Linked DNA regions of Homo sapiens. The protein of the gene in region 1 purifies or fractionates together with the protein of each later gene. This does not show direct contact. Each region holds a gene or a part of one and is shown in the gene's direction. Other genes may lie near its edges. The genes, in order: CLN3, SLC25A10, IMMT and CPT1A.

What was found.
Region 2: the proteins of CLN3 (region 1) and SLC25A10 purify together in Homo sapiens (affinity purification with mass spectrometry; 2 studies listed by BioGRID and IntAct, with this or other methods). This does not show direct contact.
Region 3: the proteins of CLN3 (region 1) and IMMT purify together in Homo sapiens (affinity purification with mass spectrometry; 2 studies listed by BioGRID and IntAct, with this or other methods). This does not show direct contact.
Region 4: the proteins of CLN3 (region 1) and CPT1A purify together in Homo sapiens (affinity purification with mass spectrometry, with the first as the bait; 2 studies listed by BioGRID). This does not show direct contact.

Annotation. Positions count from the first base shown.
Region 1 is NC_000016.10:28,482,075-28,489,083, reverse strand, and holds part of CLN3 (battenin), read left to right. Parts: intron 1-421; coding exon 422-493; intron 494-1,342; coding exon 1,343-1,422; intron 1,423-1,542; coding exon 1,543-1,628; intron 1,629-2,433; coding exon 2,434-2,506; intron 2,507-2,593; coding exon 2,594-2,737; intron 2,738-4,965; coding exon 4,966-5,078; intron 5,079-6,411; coding exon 6,412-6,458; intron 6,459-6,538; coding exon 6,539-6,607; intron 6,608-6,701; coding exon 6,702-6,757; intron 6,758-6,885; coding exon 6,886-6,979; intron 6,980-7,009.
Region 2 is NC_000017.11:81,714,928-81,721,682, forward strand, and holds the end of SLC25A10 (mitochondrial dicarboxylate carrier), read left to right. Parts: intron 1-25; coding exon 26-145; intron 146-550; coding exon 551-665; intron 666-765; coding exon 766-814; intron 815-1,081; coding exon 1,082-1,123; intron 1,124-1,884; coding exon 1,885-1,928; intron 1,929-2,074; coding exon 2,075-2,145; intron 2,146-2,471; coding exon 2,472-2,564; intron 2,565-2,829; coding exon of another isoform or gene 2,830-2,856; coding exon 2,857-2,934; intron 2,935-3,124; coding exon of another isoform or gene 3,125-3,241; exon of another isoform or gene 3,242-3,417; intron 3,418-4,903; coding exon 4,904-4,960; intron 4,961-5,048; coding exon 5,049-5,150; coding exon of another isoform or gene 5,151-5,590; 3' UTR 5,591-6,085; downstream 6,086-6,755. UniProt on the Homo sapiens protein: Catalyzes the electroneutral exchange or flux of physiologically important metabolites such as dicarboxylates (malonate, malate, succinate), inorganic sulfur-containing anions, and phosphate, across mitochondrial inner membrane.
Region 3 is NC_000002.12:86,164,082-86,171,607, reverse strand, and holds part of IMMT (MICOS complex subunit MIC60), read left to right. Parts: intron 1-226; exon of another isoform or gene 227-262; coding exon 263-400; intron 401-763; coding exon 764-859; coding exon of another isoform or gene 860-867; exon of another isoform or gene 868-2,295; intron 2,296-4,963; coding exon 4,964-5,100; intron 5,101-7,526. UniProt on the Homo sapiens protein: Component of the MICOS complex, a large protein complex of the mitochondrial inner membrane that plays crucial roles in the maintenance of crista junctions, inner membrane architecture, and formation of contact sites to the outer membrane.
Region 4 is NC_000011.10:68,831,660-68,839,185, reverse strand, and holds part of CPT1A (carnitine O-palmitoyltransferase 1, liver isoform), read left to right. Parts: intron 1-7,526. UniProt on the Homo sapiens protein: Catalyzes the transfer of the acyl group of long-chain fatty acid-CoA conjugates onto carnitine, an essential step for the mitochondrial uptake of long-chain fatty acids and their subsequent beta-oxidation in the mitochondrion.

The DNA of each region.
Region 1 (7,009 bases):
CTAAAAATACAAAAACTACCTGGGTGTGGTGGCACACACCTGTAGTCTGAGCTATTCAGGAGGCTGAGGCAGGAGAATTGCTTGAAGCCAGGAGGTGGAAGTTGCAATGAGCCAAGATCACACCACTGCACTCTAGCTTGGGCAACAGAGTGAGACACCATCTCAAAAAAAAGAAAGCTCTTGAATGTGTTATCTAAACAAAGTCCATTTACAGGGCCATCTGTGGCCTGTGGTCTAGTAGTGTGAGACTCATATGGAAACCCCCTCTTCATTGTGCATGCAGAGACGCTGAGGTCCTGAGAAGTCAGTCACTGCTGACCCAAAGCCATCCTTCAAGTGAAGGCAGAGCTGGGACGGGAGCCAGGCTCTGTGTGTCTATCCCTCTGCCTCCAGGGTGAAAGACATGCTTTTCTCCCATTAGGTGGACCCAGGCCCAACGCCGATCCCCCACAACAGCTCATCACGATTTGACTGCAACTCTGTCTCTACGGCTGTGCGTACTCATCTCACCTGGTCCTTGCCTGACCCAGGGCCCCTGGGTCTATAGACCCCACTCCCAGCCCTTCACTACCCAGCTGGGACTGTCATGATTAAAACAGTTGAGACCTGGGCTGGGCGCACTGGCTCACACTTGTAATCCCAGCACTTTGGGAGACCAAGGTGGGAGGATCACTTGAGCCTAGGAGTTTGAGACCAGCCTGGGCAGTATAGTGAGACCCCCATCTTAAAGAAAAAAATTAAAAAATATATATATATAAAATAATTGAGACCTTAATATAATTTCTGAGGCTGAGGCGGATGGATCACTTGAGACCAGGAGTTCAAGACCAGCCTGGCCAACATGGTGAAACCCCATCTGTACTAAAAATACAAAAATTAGCCAGGCATGGTGGTGCACGCCTGTAATCCCAGCTACTCAGGAGGCTGAGGCAGGAGAATCACTTGAACCCAGGAGGTGGAGGTTGTAGTGAGCCAAGATCGAGCCACTACACTCCAGCCTGGGTGGCAGAATGAGACTCACTCTCAAAATATATATATATATAGTTTCTGAGTCCTTTCTGTCTGCACCATATATTAGCTCATTTAAGCCACACAGCAGTCCTGTGAGCTAGGTGCTATGATATTCCCATTTTCCAGATGAGGAAACTGAAGCTCAGAGAGTATAAACTCTTGACACACAACTAAGGAGTGGGAGAGCTGAGACTTGAACCCAGGCGTGCCTGACTCCAGAGCCTGTGTTTGTAGCAGGCCTGTTTGGCCAGCTCCTGCCTCTCCTTGGCCACGTGGTTGGGAGGGTTGTCCCCTGGAAGCTCTGCGGTCTCACTCTATTCTCCTGTCCCAGGCTGTGCTCCTGGCGGACATCCTCCCCACACTCGTCATCAAATTGTTGGCTCCTCTTGGCCTTCACCTGCTGCCCTACAGGTCTGGGTGAGGGTAGTGGGAGGCAGGGTGGGCAGGAGCTGAGAAAGGGGAGGCTGGGATGGCTGAGATGCTGAGAGTAGAGACCGACCTTCCCCCTCCCTTCCCTTCTCACCCCCTCAGCCCCCGGGTTCTCGTCAGTGGGATTTGTGCTGCTGGAAGCTTCGTCCTGGTTGCCTTTTCTCATTCTGTGGGGACCAGCCTGTGTGGTGAGTGTGTGGTTCTGTGTCAGATGGGGAGCCCCGAGGAACCACATCAGAGCATTTGTGGGAAGAGTCTCCCCAGCCTCCCAGAGGAAAGGGATTCATTCTGTCACCCTTAGAAGCCTGCTAGGGCTATCAGCAGTAGGCGATGGGAGACTGGGACAATTTGGAGGGGTAGGCAGTGGAGGAGATGGGAGAAAATGGATGAATTAGATGGAGATTGAGGTGAACAAAGTCAAGACTCTGTGATGGACCAGGCACAGTGACTCATGCCTATAATCCCAGCACTTTGGAAAGCCAAGGCAGGCAGATCACCTGAGGTCAGGAGTTCGAAACCAGCCTGGCCAACATGGAGAAACCCCGTCTCTACCAAAAATACAAAAATTAGCTGGGTGTGGTGGCAGGAGCCTGTAATCCCAGCTACTCGGGAGGCTGAGGCAGGAGAATCTCTTGAACCTGGGAGGCAGAGGTTGCAGTGAGCCGAGATCACGCCACTGTACTCCAGCCTGGGTGACAGGGCGAGACTCCGTCTCCAAAAAGAAAAGAAAAGAAAAAGACTGATGAAGGGGCAGAGACATCAAGGGTGCATGTCTGCCCCTGGTCTGATAACTGGGTGGATGGAGGTGCCACTCTCCATGAAGGGACACGCAGGGGAGTGGGGCTCTGCTTCAGACCTGGAACCTGGCCTATGCATGGGATCTATTGGAGCCTCTATGAGCTGATACTGAGGAGGCCATGGCCAGACACATTAGAGGCCTGGGCAGTGTGGCAAGGTGTGGTGTGACCATCCCAGTGCTTGTCCTCCCCCCAGGTGTGGTCTTCGCTAGCATCTCATCAGGCCTTGGGGAGGTCACCTTCCTCTCCCTCACTGCCTTCTACCCCAGGTAAGCAGGTGGAGCAGGGAGTGTGGGGAGAGGCTGTCCCATGGTCAGCCTAGGTCCTCCTGAATGTTCCTGTGTTCTCCTTCCCAGGGCCGTGATCTCCTGGTGGTCCTCAGGGACTGGGGGAGCTGGGCTGCTGGGGGCCCTGTCCTACCTGGGCCTCACCCAGGCCGGCCTCTCCCCTCAGCAGACCCTGCTGTCCATGCTGGGTATCCCTGCCCTGCTGCTGGCCAGGTGAGCTGCCCTGAGCCGGGAGGGAGAGGGGTCCAAGGAGAGAAAACTTGGCCATGGCTGGGTGTGGTGGCTCACGCCTGTAATCCCAGCACTTTGGGAGGCCAAGGAGGGCAGATCGCCTAAGGTCAGGAAACCAGCCTGGCCAACATGGTGAAACCCCGTCTCTACTAAAAATACAACAATTAGCCAGGTGTGGTGGCGGGTGCCTGTAGTCCCAACTACTCAGGAGGCTAAGGCAGGAGAATCGCTTGAACCCCGGAGGCAGTGGTGGCAGTGAGCCGAGATCGTGCCATTGCACTCCAGCCCGGGCGACAGAGTTAGACTCTGTCTCAGGAAGAAAAAAAAAAAAAGAAAGAAAAGAAAACTTGATTATGATTGCAATCTTCAAGTCCCTACCTTGCTGTGAAGGGAGGCGGAATCTGGACTCTGATAGCCCCAGGTGTGAGTCCTGGAGCTGCCACTTTTTAGCTTTGTAGCGTTGAACAAGTTACTCCACCTCTCTGAACCCTCAGTTTCCCCATATCTCAAATGGCAGTTGTTCTTGCTTTCCTTGGAGGTGATGAGGGTAATGCATTCAGCACAGTGTGGTTCCCAAGGTGATTAGAAGTAGGATGAGGGTGGACTTTATTTGATTAGTTCCTTTTTTTTTTTTTTTTTTTTTTAATCAGTGTTGACCAGGTTGGCCTCGAATGTGTAGCCTTGCCTGCCTGAGTGCCAGGGCAACAGGCCTGAACCATGGCGACTCCCTTTTTTTTTTTTTTTTTTTTTTTTTTTTGAGACGGAGTCTCATGGTGTCACTCAGGCTGGAGTGCAGTGACTGGTGTGATCTCAGCTCACTGCAGCCTCGGCCTCCCGGGCTCTAGTGATTCTCCTGCCTCAGCCTCCCGAGTAGCTGGGACTACAGGCCCATGCCACCATGCCTGGCTAATTTTTTATATTTTTAGTAGAGACGGGGTTTCACTGTATTGGCCAGGCTGGTCTCAAACTCCTGACCTCAAGTGATCCACCTGCCTTGGCCTCCCATAATGCTAGGAATACAGGCGTGAGCCACCGCGCCCGGCCTGATTAGTTCTGTGTATTTTCATGCATATTACAAAACACTTTGGCCGGGCATGGTGGCTCACATCTGTAATCCCAGCACTTTGGGAGGCCGAGGCGGGCGCACCACGAGGTCAGGAGTTTGAGACCAGCCTGGCCAATATGGTGAAACCCCGTCTCTACTAAAAATACAAAAATTAGCCAGGCTTGGTGGCGCTTGCCTGTAGTCCCAGCTACTTGGGAGGCTGAGGAGAAGAATCGCTTGAACCCAGGAGGCAGAGGTTGCAGTGAGCCGTGATTGTGCCACTGCACTCCAGGCTGGGCAACAGAGCGAGACTCCGTCTAAAAAAAAAAAAAACACACACTTTGAACTAGCCAGACACACCTGGCCCTTCACAAGATTAGTGCTTAGGACAAGTCTAAGTAGAAAAAGTGAGTCCATTTAAAGAAAAATATTAAGTAAAAATATATATATACAGGAGGAATATGGATATGGCAAATAACATGAAGCCAGAACCTAAGTGACTAAAATCGAGGAAGTTCTGGCCTAGCACAGAGTGAACGTATAATTAATGGGAGCTAGAGCGACCATTAGAATAATAATGGCCAGAAAACAGAACTGACTCGCTAGGTATGAGCCAGCAGTCCGAACAAGGGCCTGCTGAGCACAGTGGCTCACAGCTGTAATCCCAGTGCTTTAGGAGGCTGAGGCTGGAGGACCACTAGAGGCTAGAAATTTGAGACCAGCCTGGGCAACATAGCGAGACTCCATTTATACAAAAAATGGAAAATATGAGGCGGGCTTGGTGGCACGTGCCTGTAGTCCCCGCTACTTGGGAGGCTGAGGCGGGAGGATTGCTTGAGCCTGGGAGGTCGCGGCTGCAGTGAGCTATGATTGCACCACTGCATTCCAGCCTGGATGCTGGAGAAAGACCCTGTCTCTGAAAAAAATCAAAACAAAATGAAGGCCCATGAATAGGAATAAGGAGATAAATTCAGGTCCAAAGAAAGAAGCCTTTGTCCACAATTGGAGCTCTCCCGCACAGCGTAGGAGCCTTAGAGGCAGTGAGCTACCCATCTTTGAAAGTGTTCAAAGGTAGAGGTGTTCCCTGGGAAAAGTGGCCTAGATGGTCCCTGGGGACCTTCCCAGCCAGTAGGGTTTTCTGACCCTGCCTTCATCCTACTCCTAGCTATTTCTTGTTGCTCACATCTCCTGAGGCCCAGGACCCTGGAGGGGAAGAAGAAGCAGAGAGCGCAGCCCGGCAGCCCCTCATAAGAACCGAGGCCCCGGAGTCGAAGCCAGGTAGGAGACACAGACCCTCAGAGAGGTCACTTTCTTTCTCTCTGGGTTTGGCCTTTTCCTCTCTGCAATAGGCAAAGTTAAGAGGGGAAAGAGAGTGAGTGTACTGGTTATGGGAAAAGCCTTTGTCTATTTGAGAAATACTTGTTGAGGACGAGCACAGTGGCTCACGCCTGTAATATCCCAGCACTTTGGGAGGCTGAGGCAGGAGGACCACTTGAGCTCAGAAGTCTGAGTCCAGCCTGGGCAACAGAGCAAGACCTTGTCGCAAAAAAAAAAAAAAAAAAAAAAAAAAGAAAAGAAAGGAAGGAAGGGAGGGAGAGAAGAAGGGATATTAATTGAGTACTTACCATGTGCCAGGCATTCCAATCACAAGTGCTGAGGCCCTGCGGTGGGGATAAGCTGGGATGTTCTAGAACCAGAGAATGGCCAGTGAGACTGGGCAGGGTGGGCCAATGGCCATCTGTGGAGCTGTACAAGAGACATTGGCCGGGCGTGGTGGTTCATACCTGTAATCCCAGCACTTTGGGAGGCTGAGGCAGATGGATCATTTGAGATCAAGAGTTTGAGACCAGTCTGGCCAACATGGTAAAACCCCGTCTCTACTAAAAATAAAAAAATTAGCCAGGTGTGGTGGTGCATGCCTGTAGTCCCAGCTACTTGGGAAGCTGAGGCACGAGAATCACTTGAACCCAGGAGGCAGAGGCTGCAGTGAGCTGAGATTGCACCACTGCACTGCAGCCTGGGCAACTGAGTGAGACTCTGTCTCAAAAAATAAAAAAAATTAAAAATCAAAGAGACGTGAAGAGGTCTCACCTGGTTAGCTTTTATTTTCATCATGATAAAGTATGTATATTACTTGAAGTTTACCATTTTATTATTTTTTATCTTACTTTATTTTTTTGAGGTGGAGTTTCGCTCTTGTTGCCCAGGCTGGAGTGCAATGGCGCAATCTCAGCTCACTACAACCTCTGCCTCCTGGGTTCAAGTGATTCTCCTGCCTCAGCCACCCGAGTAGCTGGGACTACAGACACCTGCCACCACACATGGCTAATTTTTGTATTTTTAGTAGAGATGGGGTTTCTCCATGTTGGCCAGGGTGGTCTTGAACTCCTGACCTCAGGTGATCCGCCCACCTCAGTCTCCCAAGGTGCTGGGATTACAAGCATGAGCCACTGCGCCCAGCCATTTTAACCATTTTTAAGTGTCCAATCCAGTGGCATGGAAGTGAGTTCCCACTGTTGCGTGGTCTGGTTAATTCTGTCATACCGGTGCCTCTTTGCCGAGTCTTCAGTGTGAAAACTTCATCTGCCCTTCTCTCTCTGTTCCCCTGCAGGCTCCAGCTCCAGCCTCTCCCTTCGGGAAAGGTGGACAGTGTTCAAGGTTCGGATGATGGCTGGGGTATGTCCCTGTGGGGCTTGCTCACCTCCAGGCCCCCCGCTTATATCTTCTGCCTTTTCCAGGGTCTGCTGTGGTACATTGTTCCCTTGGTCGTAGTTTACTTTGCCGAGTATTTCATTAACCAGGGACTTGTAAGTGAGGGGTGCTAGGAGGGGTGTGGAGGTGGCGATTGGGGCTGGGACCCACACAGCCCCGTCCATCTCCCCTGTCTGGTATTTGTTGCAGTTTGAACTCCTCTTTTTCTGGAACACTTCCCTGAGTCACGCTCAGCAATACCGCTGGTAAGAGGAGCGAGGGCAGTGGGCTGGGAGGGCGCCGTGGTGATGCAGCTGCCCTGCCCAGTAGGCACCGGGGGGAGCGGGATGGTCCCTGGAGGAGCCTCCTCTCCTCCCCCCAACCCTAACCTCAGGTACCAGATGCTGTACCAGGCTGGCGTCTTTGCCTCCCGCTCTTCTCTCCGCTGCTGTCGCATCCGTTTCACCTGGGCCCTGGCCCTGCTGCAGGTACCAAACCCCTGCCCCTCACTTCACTCC
Region 2 (6,755 bases), on another chromosome or scaffold:
GGTCTGAGAGCACTCACTCCCGCAGGTGCATCTGCAGACGCAGCAGGAGGTGAAGCTGCGCATGACGGGCATGGCGCTGCGGGTGGTGCGTACCGACGGCATCCTGGCACTCTACAGCGGCCTGAGCGCCTCGCTGTGCAGACAGGTGCGTGGTGTGTGCCAGCCTTGGGCTCCCAGACTGGGGCTGAGTCCTGCAGTGGCATCCAAGCTACTTCCGTCCCCTTTTCAAGACTTTGTGCAAGGAAGGACCCACCAGGCCGAGAGCTGGTGACCCCAGGGTGCGCCTCCCATGGGCACCCACCCAGTTTGCAGGGCTGGGCCTGAGACCGCCACTTACTGGTGGGGAAGCTGAGGCCCAGGGAGTGAGAAAGCAGGGTGCAGCTCTAGATTTGTGAACTGGCTCAGCCGCATGCTGGCACAGTGGCCTTGGGAAGGCCCCTCAGGGTCCCTGTGGCCCCTCGGGCTGAGGGGGATCCCTGGCTGGGCCGGGTGGCGAGGCTGAGGGGTGTGGGGCGTGCCCGTCCCTCCAAGCCAGGCCCTTCTCCCCCAGATGACCTACTCCCTGACTCGGTTCGCCATCTACGAGACTGTGCGGGACCGTGTGGCCAAGGGCAGCCAGGGGCCTCTCCCCTTCCACGAGAAGGTGTTGCTGGGCTCCGTCAGCGGTGAGCTGCCGGGCGGGAGGGGGAGGGGCGCGGGGTGGTCAGGTCGGCCGAGGACGCCGTGTGTCAGCACGGCTCATCTCTGGGGTTTGTGTCACCGCAGGTTTAGCTGGAGGCTTCGTGGGGACGCCCGCAGACTTGGTCAACGTCAGGTTGGTGTTCCCCCACCCCACCTGCAAGGCCAGGGGCTTTCTTGTCCCCAGACATGCCAGGGCCTGCCAGGGCTGCTTGCAGGGTGGGGTCAGCCTGGAATAAGCCACTGAGACCCTGGTGTCCTGGGCATAGGAGGGTGGGTGTCCCTGAGCCCCGGCGTGCCCTGTCCTGTGGGCCCCGCTGACCAGCGTGAGCTCCCCTGTGCTGCCAGGGCTGCCCATGCCCCTCGGCCCGCCCGCCCCTCCCGCCACCTGCTTCTGTTTCAGGATGCAGAACGACGTGAAGCTGCCCCAGGGTCAGCGGCGCAAGTGAGTCATGGGCGGCCTTCTCGGGGTGGTTGAGGTGCAGGAGGCTCGGGCGGGAGCGGACCCCTGGCTGCTCTGCCGTGACCCAGCTGAGGCTCCAGCAGGCCGAGGTGCCTGCACGGTCCATGGAGGGTCCTGACGGCTGTTCTGGACTCGGGGGTGTCACTCTGCGCCCCCAGGACCTTTGGGTTCTTCCTGTGGGGAGAGCCTTGTTGGATTGGGGGCTGGGCCTGTTTGCACCCCAGGGTGGTGAGTGCGGAGGCGAACGCCCCAGGCATGGAGAGAGCGCATGCAACAGAAACGCCCGAAGGAGGCGCTGCCTCCCTGCCCAGCTCAGGGCAGCTGTGCCCTCCTGCCACGGCCTGGGGTCTTTCCAGGGCCCGGGGTCCGCTCCAACTGCAGTGTGAGCCACTTCCCCCGCCCCTTCCAAGGACCCCTGGGGAGTTCTGGCTTCTAGCTGTGCACACAGACTGTGTTCCCCCAGGACCCCGGGGGCTGGCGGGCAGGAGGCCTGCATGCTAGGAGCGGTGCCCAGCCAGGGACTCTGTTGGAAACGATGGAACCTCCTCCCTGAGGGCCGGGCGGGGCGGGCGAGGTGGCTGTGGGACGTCAGGACCAGCTTCATGTTCCCAGGGAGAGATCTTCAGGCCCATGAGGCCTCTGCTTCCTCGAGAACCCCCGGCCTGCCTCGGGGCCTGGGAGGACCCTCTGTGGGAGCCGGTGGTCAGGGGGAGTCTCATGTGGTCATTCTGTGTCCCCGGCAGCTACGCCCATGCGCTGGATGGCCTGTACCGCGTAGCTCGTGAAGGTGAGGGGCAGGTGCTGTGCACAGGCAGGGTTCTGGGGGGCAGGCAGGGTGGGCAGCGCTGTAGAAGACTGGGCGCTGAGGGATTTGGGCCAGGTGCCTGGCCTCACCCCTTGCCTCACCCCTTGCCTCACCCCTTCCTTGTGCAGAGGGTCTCAGGAGACTGTTCTCGGGTGCAACCATGGCATCCAGCCGAGGGGCCTTAGTCACTGTGGGCCAGGTAGGCCTCCTGCGTGGGGTGGGTGTGGGCAGTGCCTGTGACCACTGACCTCCATCTTCAGAGGGGCCATAGAACAAGGCACTGGGCGCCAAAACCCTCCTGGGGAGCCACCAGCTGTGACCTTGTGGGGCAGGGTGGGGGGCACGGGTGGGTCAGGGCTGCAGCCTGTGAAGGACCTCGGGCAGGTGCCTCCCCTGTCTGGGCCTCACGGACGGACAGACGGAGCAGGTGCTTGGCCATTGCCAGGTGGTGTCGCCTGGGGCCCTGTGTGCTTTCCCCAAGCTGGGGTCCCCCCTACAGCCCTGACCGCCCTTGTGCCCCTGCAGCTGTCCTGCTACGACCAGGCCAAGCAGCTGGTCCTTAGCACCGGGTACCTCTCTGACAACATCTTCACTCACTTTGTCGCCAGCTTTATTGCAGTAAGTGGCCGGCATGGCTAGGGTGGGCGTCCCTGGGCCGGCCTTGGGCGCTGAGGGCACCCAGGATGGGGCGAGGGCTGGGGGAGGCGGGGGCCTTGGGCATCTGGCAGTGCCCCCTGGGGCTCATAAGTGGGGTGCCAGGGCTTTGGGAGCTCATGGGTCAGCCTGGTGCCCCCGCCAGCATGTTCCTGGCCCGCCCTAGGAGTCAGGTGGAGGTTCTGGCACGTGGGTGGGATTCGGCGATGGTGCCTGGCGTACCTGACAGGCCGCTGGTGACGAGCCCCCTCCTCAGGGTGGATGTGCCACGTTCCTGTGCCAGCCCCTGGATGTGCTGAAGACTCGCCTGATGAACTCCAAGGGGGAGTATCAGGTGAGTGGGGCCCTGCCTGTGCAGTTGGGCTGCACAGCCCAGCGAGTCCCCTCACCTCTCCGGGGGGTGGACACTCGCACTGGGGACCCGGGGAAGGGTGTCCCTCCCTTCTAGTTGCCTGTCTCTGCACAGCACTTGCCTTGGGAGAGGGTTGTGCCTTTGAATGCCTTTGCCTTGTTTTTGTTTTTAGAGAAGACTTCTTGGCCCGGCGCAGTGGCTCATGCCTGTAACCCCAGCACTTTGGGAGCCTGAGGCAGGCAGACTGCTTGAGTCTAGGAGTTCAAGACCAGCCTGGGCAACATACTGAAACCCTGTCTCTACCAAAATTACAAAAATTAGGGGCCAGGTGCGGTGGCTCATGCCTATCATCCCAGCACTTTGGGAGGTCGAGGCAAGCAGATCACCTGAGGTCAGGAGTTCAAGACCAGCCTGGCCAACATGGTGAAACCCCCTCTCTACTAAAAATACAAAAAATTGGCTGGGTGTGGTGGCGTGCGCCTGTAATCCCAGCTACTCGGGAGGCTGAGGCAGGAGAATCGCTTGAACCTGGGAGGCGGAGGTTGCAGTGAGCCGAGATCACACCATTGCACCCCAGCCTGGGCCACAAGAGTGAAACTGTCTCAAAAAAACAAAACAAAACAAAATTGGTCAGGCTTGGTGGTGCATGCCTGTAGTTCCAGCTACACAGGAGGCTGAGGTGGGATAATCCCTTGAGCCCAGGATGTCCAGGCCACAGTGAGCCGAGATTGCACCACTGCATTCCAGCCTGGGTGACAGAGTGAGACTGTCTTAAAACATTTCTTTTCGGCCAGGCACGGTGGCTCACGCCTGTAATCCCAACACTTTGGGAGGCCAAGGCGGGCAGATCACAAGTCAGGAGTTGGAGACCAGCCTGACCAACATGGTGAAACCCCGTCTCTACTAAAAATGCAAAAAAATTAGCTGGGCCTGGTGGCGCACGCCTGTAATCCCAGCTACTCAGGAGGCTGAGGCAGGAGAATTGCTTGAATTCAGGAGGCGGAGGTTGCAGTGAGCCGAGATTGCACCACTGCACTCCAGCCTGGATGACAGAGCGAGACTCTGTCTTAAAAAAACAAAAAACAAAAAAAAACACATTTCTTTTCTTTCTTTTTTTTTTCCCCTCATTGCAACCTCCACCTCCTGGGATCAAGCGATTCTCCTGCCTCAGCCTCCCAAGTAGCTGGGATTACAGGCGCCCGCCACCATGCCCGGCTAATTTTTCATATTTTTAGTAGAGACAGGGTTTCACCATGTCGGCCAGGCTGGTCTTGAACTCCTGACCTCAGGTGATCCGCTTGCCTCGGCCTCCCAAAGTGCTGGGATTACAGGCACGTGCCACCACTCCTGGCTAATTTTTGTATTTTTAGTAGAGACAAGGTTTCGCCATGTTCGCCAGGCTGGTCTTGAACTCCTGGCCTGAAGTGATCTGCCGCCTCAGCCTCCCAAAGTGCTGGGATTACAGGTGTGAGTCACTGTGCCCGGCCAAAAACATTTCTTTCACAGATTAACAGAGGTGGTGCCGTTCATGGCAGTCTGTGCCTCATAGGTGCTCTGGGTCTCCTGTCTTGGGCCCCCGCCAACTCCATGGGGCTTCCACGTTTGCAGAGCCCATAGCTCTGTCCCTTTTCTTCTCCCTGACGCTGCCGTGCTGCATCCCTGATTCTCATGGTTCTGTTCACAGCCCCCTCTGCCCACTGGACCCCGGGCTGCACCCTCGGGCCCTGGTTGTACCGCATGAGCAGGCAGGGTGGCCGTTGACCTGGCTGGTGCCTGCAGACCTGTGGTCACCTGTTACCAGCCAGCAGCCGCCGCTCACACCCACACCCACACCCACACCCCACATTGAGAATGCCCAGGCCACCGTGCCTGGCTGGTGCCTGGGAGGGGATTTTCGTTGCCTTTTGGGTGAGAAGCAGCCTTTTTGATTGTTTCACTGCGTTTTCTGCAGGGCGTTTTCCACTGCGCCGTGGAGACAGCGAAGCTCGGGCCTCTGGCCTTTTACAAGGTGCAGTGGTGGCGGCAGTGGCGGCTTGGGCAATGGGGAGCGGGCCCCTTCGGGCTCTGTGTCTCTCATTTTCCCTGTCTCCCTCCAGGGCCTCGTCCCAGCTGGCATCCGCCTCATCCCCCACACCGTGCTCACTTTTGTGTTTCTGGAACAGCTACGCAAAAACTTTGGCATCAAAGTGCCATCCTGACCAGCCGTGGGAATGGCTGGGCTGCCAGGCCAGACACGCTAGGTTCTTCCAAAGAGTCCCAAGCCCAGCACCTGCTCCTGGGGCCACGACCTCCCTGGCCGTGGCCACCCGTCCTCCGCAGCAGGCCCCTGCTGTCCCCCCACCTGCTGGCTGAGCTCCTCCTGGCCTCGTCCCCTCTCAGCTGTAGCTGCACCACCCCCGCTCTGGCTACCAGGCTCTCCCGGCTGGGCACTGCGTGGCCTTGCCCCTCTCCCGCTGGCAGCTCCTCAGGGGAACAGGGGCTACCAGAGGCTGATTTCTCCCCTCTCCTGGGCCAGGGGAGGGGTATTATCCCTGCCTCCTGCCCCCGATGCCCAAAGCAGCATCTTCCAGCACTTTCCATCGAGGACTTGGGTGGCAGAGTGTGGGTGCAGCCTGGCTGTTGCTCACCCAAGTGCTAGCTCTGCACTTCGTGTCTGCTGAGAGCAACCAGACCTTCCATGTCCTCGGGCAGCTGCAACTCCCCGCGAGACCCCGCAGCTGGGTGGGATGAACAAGCAACGCAGACCACAAGCGAGTGCCTGGGAGGGAGTGGCCCAGGGTGGTTCTGGAGCCATTGTGGGTGAGGGTCGAGGGCCACCGAGGTCCCGCGCACCGCTGCCTGCCCTGCAGTGGCTTTAACAGTTAGTTTTGCCAAAGCCTCTCCACTCACCAGCAGGCGGTCTCTGTCTTCAGGGATTGTGCCTGCGTCCCTCGGGCACCTGGGCCCCCCCGCTTGGCTCCCTGGGGGAATGGCCCAGGCGGGCCGCGGTTCCTCCTTAGGGCCTTCTCCCCGACAAGGAGTCCGACGGGGCGGATGCTGCATCCTCTGCCTCCCTGGTCGCTGGGCTTCACCCCACCTGGGAAGGGCAGTGTGCTCTGTGGGGGCTGCAATCAATAAATGCCGGGAGCTGCCACATCTGTTCCTGCCTGCGCTGCCTGCCCGCTGGCTGCCTTGCTGTCCAGACCAGCAGGACCCCCTGCACCCCCTAAGGAGGACCGGGCCAAGGCCTTTTGGGGAGGAGCCAGGGTCCTCGCTGTGCATTTGGATGAAGGAATTGGGGAAGTAGGAGGAACCAAAACCGGTGTGGGGGGAAGGGAACAAGACGGTGAGGCTGGGGTTGAGGGTCTCAGACACAGGATCTGGCTCTGTCATTCAGACTGGAGTGCAGTGGCACGATCTTGGCTTACTAACCTGGGCCTCCTGGGCTCAAACCAGTCTTCTACCTCAGCCTTCCAAGTAGCTGGTGCTATGGGCGTGCACCATCATACCTGGCTAATTTTTGTATGTTTTTGTAGAGTTGGGGTCTCACAATGTTACCCAGGCTGGTCCCAAACTTCTGAGCTCAGGGGATCTGCCCATTTTGGCCTCCCAAAGATGCCCTTTTTTTTTTTTTTAAGACAGGGTCTTACTGTGTCACTCAGGCTGGAGTGCAGTGGCGCAAACAGCCTGTAGTCCCAGCTACTTGGAAGGCTGCGGTGGGATCCTTTAAGCCTGCAAGTTCGAGGCTGCAGGGAGCTATGATCGCACCACTGCACTCCAGCCTGGGTGACAGAGCGAGACCCCATTTCAAAAAAAGAATGTAA
Region 3 (7,526 bases), on another chromosome or scaffold:
GAATAATGATGGTTAAAATGCAGGTGGATGCAGACAAGACTTCTTTCTTTTGTTCGTTCCCAACCATTGTCCATTTTGTGTGAGTTTATGTATGCAGTGGACAGTGCCCCTGTTTGTGTGTTATTCAAACATGTGGCAGTACAAATATTTGTGTCTCTAAGGAGTCAGATGTGAAGTGGGTGGTGATGGTGGTAGTAAATTTCTGTGTGTTTCTCTGTTAACCCAGGAAAGTATAAATACCATGAGTAACATATATTTATAGCACCTACAGAAGCGGCTCAAATTATTTCTGCAGCAGGTGATACCCTGTCGGTCCCAGCCCCTGCAGTTCAGCCTGAGGAATCTTTAAAAACTGATCACCCTGAAATTGGTGAAGGAAAACCCACACCTGCACTTTCAGGTAATTTAATTATTTCTATTTGTTCTTTTATACATGATACACTCATCAGAACTATTTAATGCCTAGGCAACACGTAGACACTAAGTATACATTTACACTAGGTTTAGGTCTTCAGAGTTTCTTAGGAAATTTTTAAAATTTAAATGTCCGAATGTATCTTTTTAAACAAGAAGATTAAAGCCTGATTCCTATTTCTTCATTTTGGAATCATTAAGAGTAATGATATGGTTTTAGAATTCTTAACACAAAAATGCCCTGCATTGATATAACTGGCCAGTACAAACGATGCTTTTTTTATATCCCTGTTAGCTATTAAAATTCTATGCTGAAATTTGATTTCCTCTTATTTACTTTTGCTGCAAGAAGAAGCATCCTCATCTTCTATAAGGGAGCGACCACCTGAAGAAGTTGCAGCTCGCCTTGCACAACAGGAAAAACAAGAACAAGTTAAAATTGAGTGTATGTAAACCAGACAGCTTCTTAAGGATTTTGGGTCATCTCCCAGTTGCTCTCTTCTTAAACTATCAGCACAAGTTTGTCATCTATCACCTAGTTGTGGTTTCTTTTGTTGCTGCGGTTGTTTTTTAGTGGCATTGCTTTATTCATCACCTTCATTTCATCTAAACTTCTTTTACCTAAGTGACAAAGGCTATTCTTAGTGTATAGTTGGTGAAAACTCCAAATAATACTAAAGATTATGTTAGCGCTAAAGATTCTTTATACTCTGGGAAACAGAAATTGATTATTTATGTTTTAGCAGCTTGCCTAAAAGTCCTTTATTTATTTTTTTGAGATAGGCTCTTTTCTGTCACCCAGACTGGAGTGCGGTGGCACTGTCATGGCTCACTGCAGCCTCAACCTCCCAGGCCAAAGCCATCCTCCCACCTCAGCCTCCTCTGTAGCTGGGACTACAGGCGTGTACCACCATACCCAGCTAATTTTTTAAAAATTTTTTATAGACACAGGCATCTCACTATGTTGCCTAGACTGGTCTCGTACTCCTGGGCTCAAGTGATCCTCCCACCTTGAACTCCCAAAGTGCTGGGATTACAGGCCTGAGCCCTTGTACCCAGCCCTAAGAGTCTTTTATTAATAATTGTTAATTTATACTTGTAAATAATTGTTTATTAATAATTGTAAATTTATTTGTTGGAGTCAGAATGGCTTACACTGCCTTATCATCTAGCCTCTGGACTCTCTAGTAGTGCTTTTATCTGACACTGGTGGGGCATGGAATGTTCTACACATCGCTGGTTTCCAGCTAACAAGCATATTCCTTTTTAAGTTTCAGTTTTATGGTTTTTTTGTTTGTTTGTTTTTAAGAGATGGGCTCTTACTGTGTTGGTCAGGGTAGTGTTGGACTCTTGGCCTCAAGAAATCCTCCCACCTTGGCCTCCCAAAGTGCTGGGATTACAGGCATGAGCTACCACACCTGGCCAAGTTTTTTTTATCATTATTATTATTTTTGCTGTCCTCGGTAGGTCAGGATTCTTAAATTTTTTGATGGTTTAAAAAAGATAATAGATATTTATCAATTTATTTTTCTGTCTTAAAGCACATGTAACATAATTTTTTGTACTGTGCTATAATATGTTGATGTCTCTGGAGGTCGTGGGATGTAGCTTTTTGCTGGACAGAGAGTTCAGTACTCATGGCAGCTGTTTATAGTTTTTTGATCTCCTTGTCATTTGTTTTGCTCCTGTTTCCCTTGTAATGTGCTGGTTCTGCCCTACCCTGAGGAACCAAGTTTCTTAGAATAGCATAGGTGTCATTCTGTGCCTATGGCATTAGTTTTCCTACTTGGATTTGGATTTTCGTTTTTGATTTTTTGTATTCTTCTGATTGTGTTACAAATATTTGTGAATATTTAATAAATGACTTCTAACTAAGTGAAATATTTCATTTTTCCTACTTCTTTTTTCTTTTAGTCCTGTTTTTTCTTCACTTTTCACTTTTCTCTCTTTATCACTTGGGCACCTTGAAATTAAGTTATAAACGTAAGATGGAGATGTCTGCTGTTCCAGCTGTTCTTTTCCTTGCCTGGTTCCTCTCATCTTTCATTTTGGGCAAAGTGAAAATTTTCAGAATTTTATCTGTCACCTCTTAATTCCCCCTCAAACTTGACTTTAAAAATATACACATATGCATTTGCATGTGAAATATTTATCAAGGATCAAAGGACAGTGACTAAACCTCTGAAGAGGGCTGGAAGCAGCAGGTGCCTCCCAGCAGCCCACTTTCTGTGGCCTCCATAAAGTGGTTCACAACTGCCTGTACTTGATGTCCACTGTTCACTCACGCATGTCATGGGATCCAAATACCACGGTTTCTCTCCCTTGCCCCTTTCTCTTGTTGTATCCCCTGCTCTCATTTCACTTCTATCACTTCTGTCAATTTCTTTTTATTTTCTCCTTATTAGTTTTCCTCTTATCTTTCTTGCAGAGGTACCATTTGTAGTTCCTCAGATTCCATTTGTTCATTGCTAGTTTATGCTTCTTTTCCTCAAAATCATCTTTTTTTCTCGCTTGTCAAATACATTTTTTATTTTTTGTCATGTGATATCATTTATTTAATTAATTTGTTTTGAGACAGAGTCTCACTCTGTCACCTAGGCTGGAGTGCAGTGGTGCAATATCGGCTCACTACAACCTCCAACTCCCAGGTTCAAGCGATTTTCCTGCCTCAGCCTCCTGAGTAGCTGGGACTATAGGCACCCACCACCATGTCTGGATAATTTTTGTATTTTTAGTAGAGACGGGGTTTCACAATGTTGGCCAGCCTGGTCTCGAACTCCTGACCTCAGGTGATACACCTGCCTCGGCCTCCCAAAGTGCTGGGATTACAGGCGTGAGCCACTGCGCCGGCCCATTTATTATTAAATTAGTATTCTTACTAGCCGCCTTTCTTCAAATGACCATTTATTTTTGCATTTTAGTAAATTATCTAAAATTGTCATTTGCTTTACTTTTTGGTATTCCCGAAACAGCATATAGAAATGTGATCTTAATAGATGGAAGCCTCTTGAACATTGGTGTCTGCTATTTCTTGAGTCCTTTTATGGAAGAACACTGTCCATTTCAAGTTGCCTTTGGGTTTTGTTTTGTATTTTTTGACCTGTTTTCTTATTTGTCTTTTTCTTTCTCTTGTCTGTTTTCTTGTATCTTGTCAACATAAGTGTTTTGCTATGAGTATTCCTTCTTGCCAAGGGGATGAAATGGGCACCTCTTTTTCCCTGTTACGATTGTTGTTTAAAATGAAGAAAGCTGATGGATTTGTTGAGTTTATAGCCACAATATGTAAAAGGGGCTATAGTGTCCTAAACCTTGTTTCTCCCATTTGAAATACATTACCCTTCTTTAAATAATTTTGAAAAAAAAAAACACTTTTTATTTTGAAAAAGTTTAGATATACAGAAAAGAAAAAGTAGGCTGGGCACGGTGGCTCACGCCTGTAATCCCAGCACTTTGAGAGGCTGAGGTGGATGGATCACGAGGTCAGGAGATCGAGACCATCCTGGCTAACACGGTGAAACCCTGTCTGCTAAAAATACAAAATATTAGCTGAGCGTGGTGGCAGGCACCTGTAGTCCCAGCTACTCAGGAGGCTGAGGCAGGAGAATCGCCTGAACCCAGGAGGCGGAGGTTGCAGTGAACTGAGACGGTGCCACTGCACTCTAGCCTGGGCGATAGAGTGGGACTCCGTCTCCAAAAAAAAAAAAAAAAACAAAAAACAAAAAACCGGGCACGGTGGCTCACGCCTGTAATCCCAGCACTTTGGGAGTCCAGGGTGGGCGGATCATGGGGTCAGTAGATGGAGACTATCCTGGCTAACATGGTGAAACCCCGTCTCTACTAAGAAATACAAAAAAATTAGCTGGGCGTGGTGGTATGCACCTGTAGTCCCAGCTACTCGGGAGGCTGAGGTAGGAGAATGGCGTGAACCCGGGAGGCGGAGCTTGCAGTGAGCCGAGATCGCGCCACTGCACTCCAGCCTGGGCGACAGAGCGAGACTCTGTCTCAAAAAAAAAAAAAAAAAGAAGTGTAATAAAGCTTCATAGATTTATCATCCAGACTAAATTATCAGTATTTTACCATGTTTTCTTTTTTTTTTTTGAGAGAGTCTCGCTCTGTCGCCCAGGCTAGAGTGCAGTGGCATGATCTCGGCTCACTGCAAGCTCCACCTCCCAGGTTCAAGCGATTCTCCTGCCTCAGCCTCCCAGGTAGCTGGAACTACAGGCACCCGCCACCATGCCTGGCTAATTTTTGTATTTTTAGTAGAGACGGGGTTTCACCACATTGGTCAGGTTGGTCTCAAACTCCTGACCTTGTGATACGCCCGCCTCGGCCTCCCAAAGTGCTGGGATTACAGGCATGAGCCACTGCGCCCGGCCTTTACCATACTTTTAAGTGAAACTTTGATTCCCTAAATTTGAGTCTCATGTATTTTGTTCCTTTTTAAATTTTTTGGGAAATGCAATGGAAGACTAGATAGGAGAACAGCAAAAGTTTAAAGTCATTTATGGGGGTAGGATTTGTTTTTTAACTGTTCTTTTTTTTTTTTAAGCTCTAGCCAAGAGCTTAGAAGATGCTCTGAGGCAAACTGCAAGTGTCACTCTGCAGGCTATTGCAGCTCAGAATGCTGCGGTCCAGGCTGTCAATGCACACTCCAACATATTGAAAGCCGCCATGGACAATTCTGAGGTGAGCCCAATGAATGATTAGAAGTGTTCTGGCTGTCATGACTTGGAGGACAAAAAGAAAAATCGAGGGTGGAGAGAAGTGTAATATTTAACAGACTGCTTTCTTCCGTATGATATCGGCTTTCTCTCACTAGGGGAAGATAGTCTGGAATAATTAATCTTTTTTTGTTATTGTTTTGAGACGGAGTCTTGCTCTGTCGCCCGGGCTGGAGTCCAGTGGTGCGATCTCGGCTCATTGCAACCTCCACCTCCCAGGTTCAAGCGATTCTCCTGCCTCAGCCTCCCGAGTAGCTGGGATTACAGGCTCCCGCCACCATACCCGGCTAATTTTTGTACTTTTAGTAGAGACAGGGTTTGCCATTTTGGCCAGGCTGGACTGGAACTCTTGACCTCAAGTGATTTGCCTGCCTCGGCCTCCCAAAATGTTGGGATTACAGGCGTGAGCCACTGTGCTTGGCCTTAGAGTAATTATGTTTAAAAAACAAACTGAAAAAAGCCTTTAAGTTTTTTAGAATGAATTTTATACATTGTGCTTTACTATATCTTACAACACCGATGCAGCGCAAGAATTAGTTCAGATTTGCTTTCATATTTTAATAGCACTTAAATATTTTTGTTGTTTGCTTTAAAATTGCTATTTCCATAGGTAAACTTTTTAAGATACTTCTCAAACTTCACATGCAGTTTTAAGAAATAATACAGAGAGCTCTCATGTTCCCTGAAACACCTGCTATTTTAAATGTTTATGATTATTTATGCGAAACACTTCAAAGAATGAAGTAATAACATTGATTTTTCAAAATTTAATACTGGGACTTAATACATTATTTTATAATTACATTAAGTTATTCAGTATGTATAAATGTATCTCTATTCCAAGTCATTTAAGGAGTAAATTAAAGTAAAATGCATAAATTATTAATCTTAAGGATCAGGATCATACATGGTCAGTAAAGTTACTTTGCCATCATAATTGTAGTTTTAAAAAAAATTTTACACACACTTTACATTGTTTCAGTCGTATGTACTTATATTACAAAAGAGTTTAATTAGACCTCTGATGTTAGTAGCAAGAAACTACAACCTTTGAAATTTTAAGGAAAATTCCATTTTATTCAAAGTCCAAGAAAAATACTTAAATATCAGAGTTCAGTCAGCAAAGTGGAAACCACCCAGGAAATTTAATTTGCTGGTTACCGATATGGGAAGGCTAGAAGTTGCGTGATGTAAGGGTGTTGGGTTCAAACCCAAGTAGACCAGTATCCCTCAGAAGGACACGGATTGGAAGCTTTAAATGCCATGTTACTACTTGGGTATAAGGGTACACAAGGTGGTATTTCATCTTCCTAACGCACATAATGTGTAGCACATGGTGATTAGACAGTGTAAAATCTATTGCAGTCAAGATTTTACAATCTAATGGTAGCAGTTAACAGATGAGAGTATTAGCTAATGTACAAAATAATTGGAAAAATGTATGAACACATTTTGGAATGTTAAGAATGAATTCCAGCTTTTGTTTTTTCTAGTACAAGAAGCTACAGGTGCACATGTAATTTCTAATATATACTGAATAACTTTCACAAAGCAGTGTTTGTGAAGAGTTGGATTTGGTAATACTAGGATTTAGTTTGGTTGTAGGGGAATCTGTGTCTGTTACAGGGTAGGTTTTCCTTGGACTTCTGTAAGCAGGAGTACCTTCAACAAGGGTGATAAATTTTGGCCCCCAGATATGTCATTGACATTTACATGCTTTGTAATTCTATTTGGGTCAGTTCATGTGGCCCAACTCAGCATCCATTCCTTTTTTTTTTTTTTTGAGACAGAGTCTTGCTCTGTCACCAGGCTGTAGTGCAGTGGCGTGATCTCTGCTCACTGCAACCTCTGCCTCCCAGGTTCAAGCAATTCTCCTGCCTTAGCCTCTCAAGTAGCTGAAATTACAGGTGCCCACCACCACACCTGGCTAATTTTTGTATTTTTCGTACAGAGAGGGTTTCACTATGTTGGCCAGGCTGGTCTCGAACTCATGACCTCAAGTGATCTACCTGCCTCCACCTCCCAAAAGTGCTGGGATTATAGGCGTAAGCCACCATGCCTGGCCCCAAATCAGTATACATTCTTGATGTATTTTATTTTCAAGATGACTAAAGCGGTCCAGGCGTGGTGGCTCATACCTGTAATCCCAGCACTGTGGGAGGCTGAGGCTGGTGGATCATTTGAGGTCAGGAGTTCGAGACCAGCCTGACCAACATGGAGAAACCCCGTTTCTACTAAAAATATAAAATTAGCTGGGCATGGTGGCCCATGCCTGTAATCCCAGCTACTCGGGAGACTGACGCAGGAGAATCGCTTGAACCTGGGAGGTGGAGGTTGTGGTGAGCCAAGATCGAGCCATTGCACTCCAGCCTGGGCAACAAGAATGAAACT
Region 4 (7,526 bases), on another chromosome or scaffold:
TTTGCATTTTTTCCTTTGTTGGAAAAAATGTTTAGTCACTCTGCATGGTTATTATTGGCAGGCCAGAATTCTGTTGCTGGTGGAAGCCTGAACTTGAATTCCGGAAGAATTGGTGCTTTAAGAATTAAAATGGCTGTTCGAGATTGTTTGTTTAAAGTGTGTTGGAGAGAATCTCTCGAGAATCTCTCCAACACACTTTAAAGAGGCCTCACTTGTCTTCTGCCAGTCTTGAGCTTTTCTTGTGAAGACTTTTGTTTTGTTTTGTTTTTACAAATAAGCGATATAAGCATACGATGCAAAGTTAAAGAGGCACAGATGGGCCCGGCCCCGTGGCTCACGCCTGTAATCTCAATGCTTTGGGAGGCCAAGGTGGGAGGATTGCTTTGAGGCCAGGAATTCGAGACCAACCTGGGCAACAGAGCCAGACCCCTGTCTCTACAAACAATTAGTAGGGCCTGGTGGAGTGCATCTGTGGTCCCAGCTACTCAGGAGGCTGAGGTGGGAGGATGGCTTCAGCCCAGGAGGTGGAGACTGCAGTGAGCTATGATTGCACCACTGCGCTCCAGCCTCGGTGACAGCCAGACCCTGTCTCTGTTTTTTTTTTTTTTTTTTTAAAAAGGTGCAGATACAGAGTAGAGTCCTTCTCACTTGGTTCCCCTCTCCAGATGCCACCACTATTACCAGTTTCTTTGACGACATGTACAGGATATGTTTTTTAAACAAATTGATTGCTTAACACAAGTAAGGACTTTTTTCTGCTTGCTAGCTTCAAATATTTGTTACCTTGTGTAAATTTCAACTTTTACCCCATCCAAATGTCAGGTGAAGGTTGGATCTCCAGCAGGCCCTGGGCTGAGGCCAGCTACCCTATTTGGGTATCTTGACGGCCTCAGAAGTGTCTGCCTTTGCCTTTTTTTTGGTGAGGATTGTTCTTCGGTCCAGGAACGTCTTTGGAAGTTAACAGTGAAAGAAATCATGCTGCTGAGTGAGGCGTGCCCTCTCCAGGGTGTGCAGGAGGGTCACCGTCACCTTGGAGGGTTGGGCAGTAGGGTGGGTACCGCTCTGCTTCCTGAGGGATATAGGTTAGGCATTGGACACCAAGTCCTTTATGTTAAGAAAGGAAGGCTTCATACTCCTGATGCGGGTGGTTTGTGGTACCCAGCCCAGGAGCCGGAGAGCCAGCCTGCATTCTTCCTGTTCCCTAAGCCCCCACATGCAGCCGGGGCTAAGTGCTGCTACTTCTTCCTAACTCACCCTTACATTCACCTTCCTCATTATTTCAGTGGCCCAGAGCAGACATTCAGATATGTGTTGAAGGAATGACAGAACATTTGAGACATCCTTTCTTTTTTTTTCTTTAGTGACAAGGTCTTGCTCTGTTGTCCAGGCTGGAGTGCCGTGGCGCAATCATAGTGCACTCTTGGCCTCAAGCGATCCTCCCACCTCAGCCTCCCAAAGCACTGGGATTACAGGCATAAGCCCCCTCGCCCTGCCCGAAGCACCCTTTTTCCACTCTGGATTGCCATAACCGCCTGACGAGGGGCACTGTTATTCCTGTTTGTGTTATGGGAAGTTCCTGTGAGGGAGGCAGGGAGCAGAGGAGCATTTGGGTCCCCCCTCAATGCACCTTCCTTCATGCTGCTACTGTGGCTGAGGACATCTGGACCCGAGACCACGTCCCTATTCTCTCCCCACAGCAAGCTGCTAGCTCTCTGCAGTGATGTCTGCTTCGCCCACCAGCCCTGGCTCACTCAGGGGGTCCTGTGGTCATCAGGTCACATTGAGTCACCACAGACAGCTTTCCTAACGCTGTGTTCTGATGCCCTGGAGAAACTGTCAGCTAAGCGCAGTGGCTCACGCCTGTAATCCCAGCACTTCTGGAGGCCACGATGGGCGGAACATGAGGTCAGGAGATCGAGACCAGCCTGGCCAACACAGTGAAACCTCGTCTTTACTAAAATACAAAAAGGTAGCTGGGCATGGTGATGCACGCCTGTAATCCCAGCTACTCGGGAGGCTGAGGCAGGGGAATCGCTTGAACCCAGGAGTTGGAGGTTGCAGTGAGCTGAGATCACACCACTGCACTCCAGCCTGGTTGACAGAGCAAGACTCCGTCTCAAAAAAGAAAAGAAAAGAGAAGAGAAGAGACAAAACTGTCATATGCTATCACTGAAATTTGACTTTTTATAAAATGATTCTTCATTTATAAAAGCATTTATCCCTGATTTGCCAACTGTCATCTCCTCTGGTGCCCTGAAAAAGATTTAATACATGGAGGTTTGCTTTCCTTTTTCTTTATTTCCTTCATTCCTTCCTTCCTTCCTTCCTTCCTTCCCTTTCTTTTCTTGGAGATTTTGTTTCATTTTTCTTTCTTTCTCTCTTTTCTTTTCTTATTTTCTTTTCTTTTCTTTCTTTTGAGGAAATCTCACTCTGTTGCCCAGGCTGGAGTGTAGCGGTATGATCTCGGCTCACTGCAGCCTCTGCCTTCTGGGTTCAAGTGATTCTCCTGCCTCAGCCTCCCAAGCAGCTGGGACTACAGGGGCATGCCACCATGCCTGCCTAATTTTTGTATTTTTAGTAGAGATGAGTTTCACCATGTTGGCCAGGCTGGTCTTGAATTCCTGACCTCAGGTGATCTGCCTGACTCACCCTCCCAAAGTGCGGGGATTACAGGCATGAGCCACTGCGCCAGGAGTTTTTTTTTCCGAGGCAGGATCTTGCCTTGGTGCCCAAGCTGGAGTGCAGTGCCGTGGTGCCATCATAGCTCAACGTAATCTCCCATTTGGGCTCAAGGGATCCTCCTTCTTCAGCCTCTTACATAGCTAGGACCACAGGCATATGCCACCACACCTAGCTAATTTTTTATATTTTTTTGTAGAGACAGGCCTCACTATGTTGCCCAGGCTGGTCTTGAACTCCTGGCCTTAAGTGACCCTTTCACCTTGGCCTTGCAAAGCGTTGGGATTCCAGGCATGAGCCACCACGCCGGGCTTCCTGGTTTCTTTATACTTCTTCAAATACACACAGTGGCTCAATGTGATGTCCAGTACAGTTTGCACAAAATACAACCACAGATTGCTAAAAGGTATACATCGAAGTCAGAAGGTATCAAATGCTGGCATTGAGATTTGGCATGGGGTGGGGGTGCAACAGGTAGGAAGAGAAATCCACATTCCTAGAGGGTTTGCATTGGCACCACAGGGCTACAGTTGGAAAGGGACAAAGAACGTGTTCCTGCAGTAAAGACCTAACAGGTGTCAGAGCTGGCTGCCACGTCCTCCTGCAGTTTGCCGGAGGAGGTAAGGGCATCCTGCATACTTTATGTGAGGCAAATACTTGCTCAAGGTCACAGGTCTGAGTAATTGGTAGAGCTGGGATTTGAACCCAGATCTGTGTGTTTTCTTTCCCTTTCCCAGGCTGCTTCCCAGACCACTGGGCAGCCAGAGGGCCTGGGTTTTGGAGGCCCCCACTCCCTACCCCATGCAGACTGGGTGTGGCACTGAATCCGCCTCTAGGGTTTCTGGGTTTCCATTTCCTCATCTGTAAGGTGGTGGGTCTGAACCTGTCATTCCATGTCACACGAGTTTTGTGAGGATCCAATCAGAGGTCAGATGTGAAGAGAGTTTTGAGTGTGTAAAGTAAATACAGGCTCTAGCAAACAATGTCCTGGCTGCAGGCGGCATTTAGGGACACCAATGTATTTTGCAGTCCCCACATTAGAAGTTCAGTTCAAGTTCAGTTTGAATTAGAAGTTCAAGTTGTTATATTCTGTGCAAAGGTGAAGAATATGCATGGGAGATACAGGGGACACCGCTCCTGTTGTCTTAGGGACATTTGTGGGAACAATATACTGGTACGAAGAGGAGGTTTAGGATGTCCTTTGGGCAGGTGCAGGTCTCCTCCTTGCAGTCTGAGCTCCTGCCCGAGTGCCGATGCTGGCTAGAGGCAGGGCAGGCACAGTGGGAAAGAAGTAGCAGCTGTTAAACTTCTGGTGGGCTTCTGAATAGCTAGGTCAGATAACTGGGTCTGTCAATACGTTGGCTATCTTCTTTATAAAATTGTGAATCTTTGTGGCTTTTCCAAATTTTTTTTCTAAGATCATATTTGTCTGTATTTATCTAACCATTACTTATTGACGTGGTGCACTATAAGGTCTAAATTTGAATTGGCTTAATTTTTTTTTTTTTGAGATGGAGTCTCGCCCTATCGCCCGGGCTGGAGTGCAGTGGCGCAATCATGGCTCACTGCAACCTCCGCCTCCCCAGTTCAAGCAATTCTCCTGCCTCAGCCTCCCGAGTAGCTGAGATTACAGGCATGCACCACCATGCCCAGGTAGTTTTTGTTTGTTAGTAGAGACAGGGTTTCATCATGTTGGCCAGGCTGGTCTCAAACTCCTGACCTCAAGTGATCCACCCAGAATTGGCTTAATTTTTACAGTACTTGGTAAGACAGGGTCTCGCTCTGTCATCCAGGCTAGAGTGCAGTGGCGTGATCATAGCTCACTATAACCTCAAACTCCTGGGCTCGAGTGATACTCGCAAGTAGCTGGGACCACAGGCATGCACTACCCACACCTTGGCTAATTTTTGTATTTTTTGTAGAGATGGGGTCTTGCTACATTGCCCAGATTGGTCTCAAATACCTGGGCTCAAGCGAACTTCCTGCCTTCGCCTGCCAAAGTATTGGGATTACAGGCATGAGCCACCATACCCAGTCCAGAATTCCTTTTATTTTATTATTTTTATTTTTTGAGACGAAGTCTCCCTCTGTCACCCAGGCTGGGGTGCAGTGGCATGATCTCGGCTCACTGCAACCTCTGCCTCCCGGGTTCAAGCGATTCTCCTGCCTCAGCCTCCCGAATAGCTGGATTACAAGTGCCCACCACCACACCTGGCTAATTTTTGTATTTTTACTAGAGATGAGGTTTTGCCACGTTGGCCAGGCTGGTCTTGAACTCCTGACCTCAGGTGATCCACACGCCTCAGCCTCCCAAAGTGCTGGGATTATAGGCATGAGCCACCGTGCCCAGCCCAGAATTCCTTTTATAACCTGACGACCCATTATATTGACCCCATAAATGTGAATAGTCCATTATGATAAACTTCAGTACAGGAAATCCACTGTGTGGCCAATTTAAATAATGTGAATATTGAATGATCAGTCATGAATTCAAGACGCAACCTTTCATAATGAAAGCTCCAGGCTGGGTGTAGTGGAGCACACCTGTAGTCCCAGCTTAGGCTGAGGCAAGATGATCTCTTGAGCCAGGAGTTCAAGGTCACGCTCGGCAACAGAACAAGACCCTGTCTTATAAAAAAAAAATAATAATGAAAATCCTTCACCTTTCTTGTACATGAAACCCTCCGAAAAACATAAGGTGAGTCTTACATTCTCACTTCTAAGGTGCTTCCATCAGGTTTGGGAAACAATTTCTTTTTTTTTTTCTTTTTTGAGATGGAGTTTCGCTCTTGTTGCCCAGGCTGGAGTGCGGTGGTGGGACCTTGGCTCACTGCAACCTCCACCAACCAGGTTCAAGCAATTCTCCTGCTACAGGTGCCCACCACCACACCCAGCTAATGTTTTGTATTTTTAGTAGAGATGGGGTTTCACCATGTTGGCCAGGCTGGTTTTGAACTCCTGGCCTCAGGTGATCCGCCCACCTTGGCCTCCCAAAGTGCTGGGATTACAGGCGTGAGCCAACACGCCCAGCCAAGTTTGGGAAACAACTTCTGTTTGTGTGTATACACATTTACTGGAAAAGTACAAGGGCACCATTACAGATGTGCATATCTGCAATTGAATAACGATGTGGCTCATACAGTGCAGAGAGCGCACACCCACACTTGCCTGGAGAAGAGGAGCTGCTGCTTTTCTTCCTTCCCATTATTGCTAATTTTTGCCTGCATCTCAGTTCAGAAGAGCCATGAACTTTACTGCACATGTGTGCTAGTTCTAGGGAACCCCCTGGGCTGCTGCTGTCCTTCCAGAGCCTTCCTGGTACTTCCCTTGAAGTTCTTTGGGCAGCAGTGAGGAGGCCAGGCCAGATTTTTGCCACCTTGGACATCATGCATGTTGTGAAGGTGGTTTCCCCGAGCTGGAGCCAGTCCCGGAGGCTGGCACTAGCTTTCTAGCGAAGCAGAATCTTCCCAGGCATTGGTCACCCGGGCATCCAAGAATGTGTTGTAGATGATGAGATAACTGCCCTGCCCTTCGCCAGAGACACTGCTTCTGACCCTGCCTACAGCGCCTTCTCCAGTTTTTCCAGGGATGAGGCCCATGTCATCCAGCCTCACACTTTCTCTGTTCCTAGAGGCCCTGCCTGGTATTCCTGCTGAGCTAAGCTGTCGCTTCCCATGGGTAACATTTTCTCAGAGGATTTCCAACATAGTTGTTTACCGCTGGAGGAGATGGGCAGCTGTTAGCTAGGTTTGAATAGAAAGCAGAGCCTGCTCCTGTGTGCATGGGCACTGTGCAATGCTAGTGGGAAGACTGCAGCATGTGAATAATTTTACAGTTGGCACTGATGGTGTTTATACTTACTGGAGTTTTATTGCTGGCTGCAATCTCATCATTTTGGTTACAACAGTGACCTAATTTTATATCTGTGTTGTAACTTTAGGAATCCTAAGTAGAACTTTTTGTGTAGTACCTACCACTTTACTTTGGGAGTTAAGAGTATAAGTTTTGGAGTTGGACCTGGGTTTTTGTTTGTTTGTTTGTTTGTTTGTTTGTTTTTGAGACAGAGTCTCGCTCTGTCACCCAGGCTGGAGTGCAGTGGTGCAATCTTGGCTCACTGCAACCTCCACCTGCCAGGTTCAAGAAATTCTCCTGTCTCAGTTTCCCTAGTATCTGGGACTACGGGTGCATGCCACCAAGCCCAGCTAATTTTTTGTATTTTTAGTAGAGACAGGGTTTCACCATATTGGTCAGGCTGGTCTCGAACTCTTGAGCTCAGGTGATCTGTCCGCCTTGGCCTGCCAAAGTGCTGGGATTAGAGGCGTGAGCCACCGCACCTGGCCTGGGCCTGGGTTTGATTTCCAGCCCTGCTATTTGCTGGCTGTGACACTGGGCAAGTTTCTTGACATCTAAGCCCTGGTTTTCTCATTAGTACATGGAGATAGCCCTAGTACCCATTTCCTAGGGTGCTAGTGGGAATTAAATGATCTAATGCTAGTCAAATACATCAATATAAAAATATATATGGGTCACATTGTCTAGCATATGCCAAAGGGTTTGGTAAAAAGAATGTTCTGGGTCGGGCACAGTGGCTCATGCCTGTAATCCCAGCACTTTAGGAGGCCAAGGCAGACGGATCGCTTGGGGTCAGGAGTTCGAGACCAGCCTGGTCAACATGGTAAAAACCCATCTCTACTAAAAATACAAAATTAGCCAGGCGTGGTGGTGCGTGCCTGTAATTCCAGCTCCTGGGAAGGCTGAGGCAGGAGAATCACTTGAACCCAGGAGGCAGAGGTTGCTGTGAGCCGAGATCATGTCATTGCACTCCAGCCTGGGTGATGGAGCAAAAC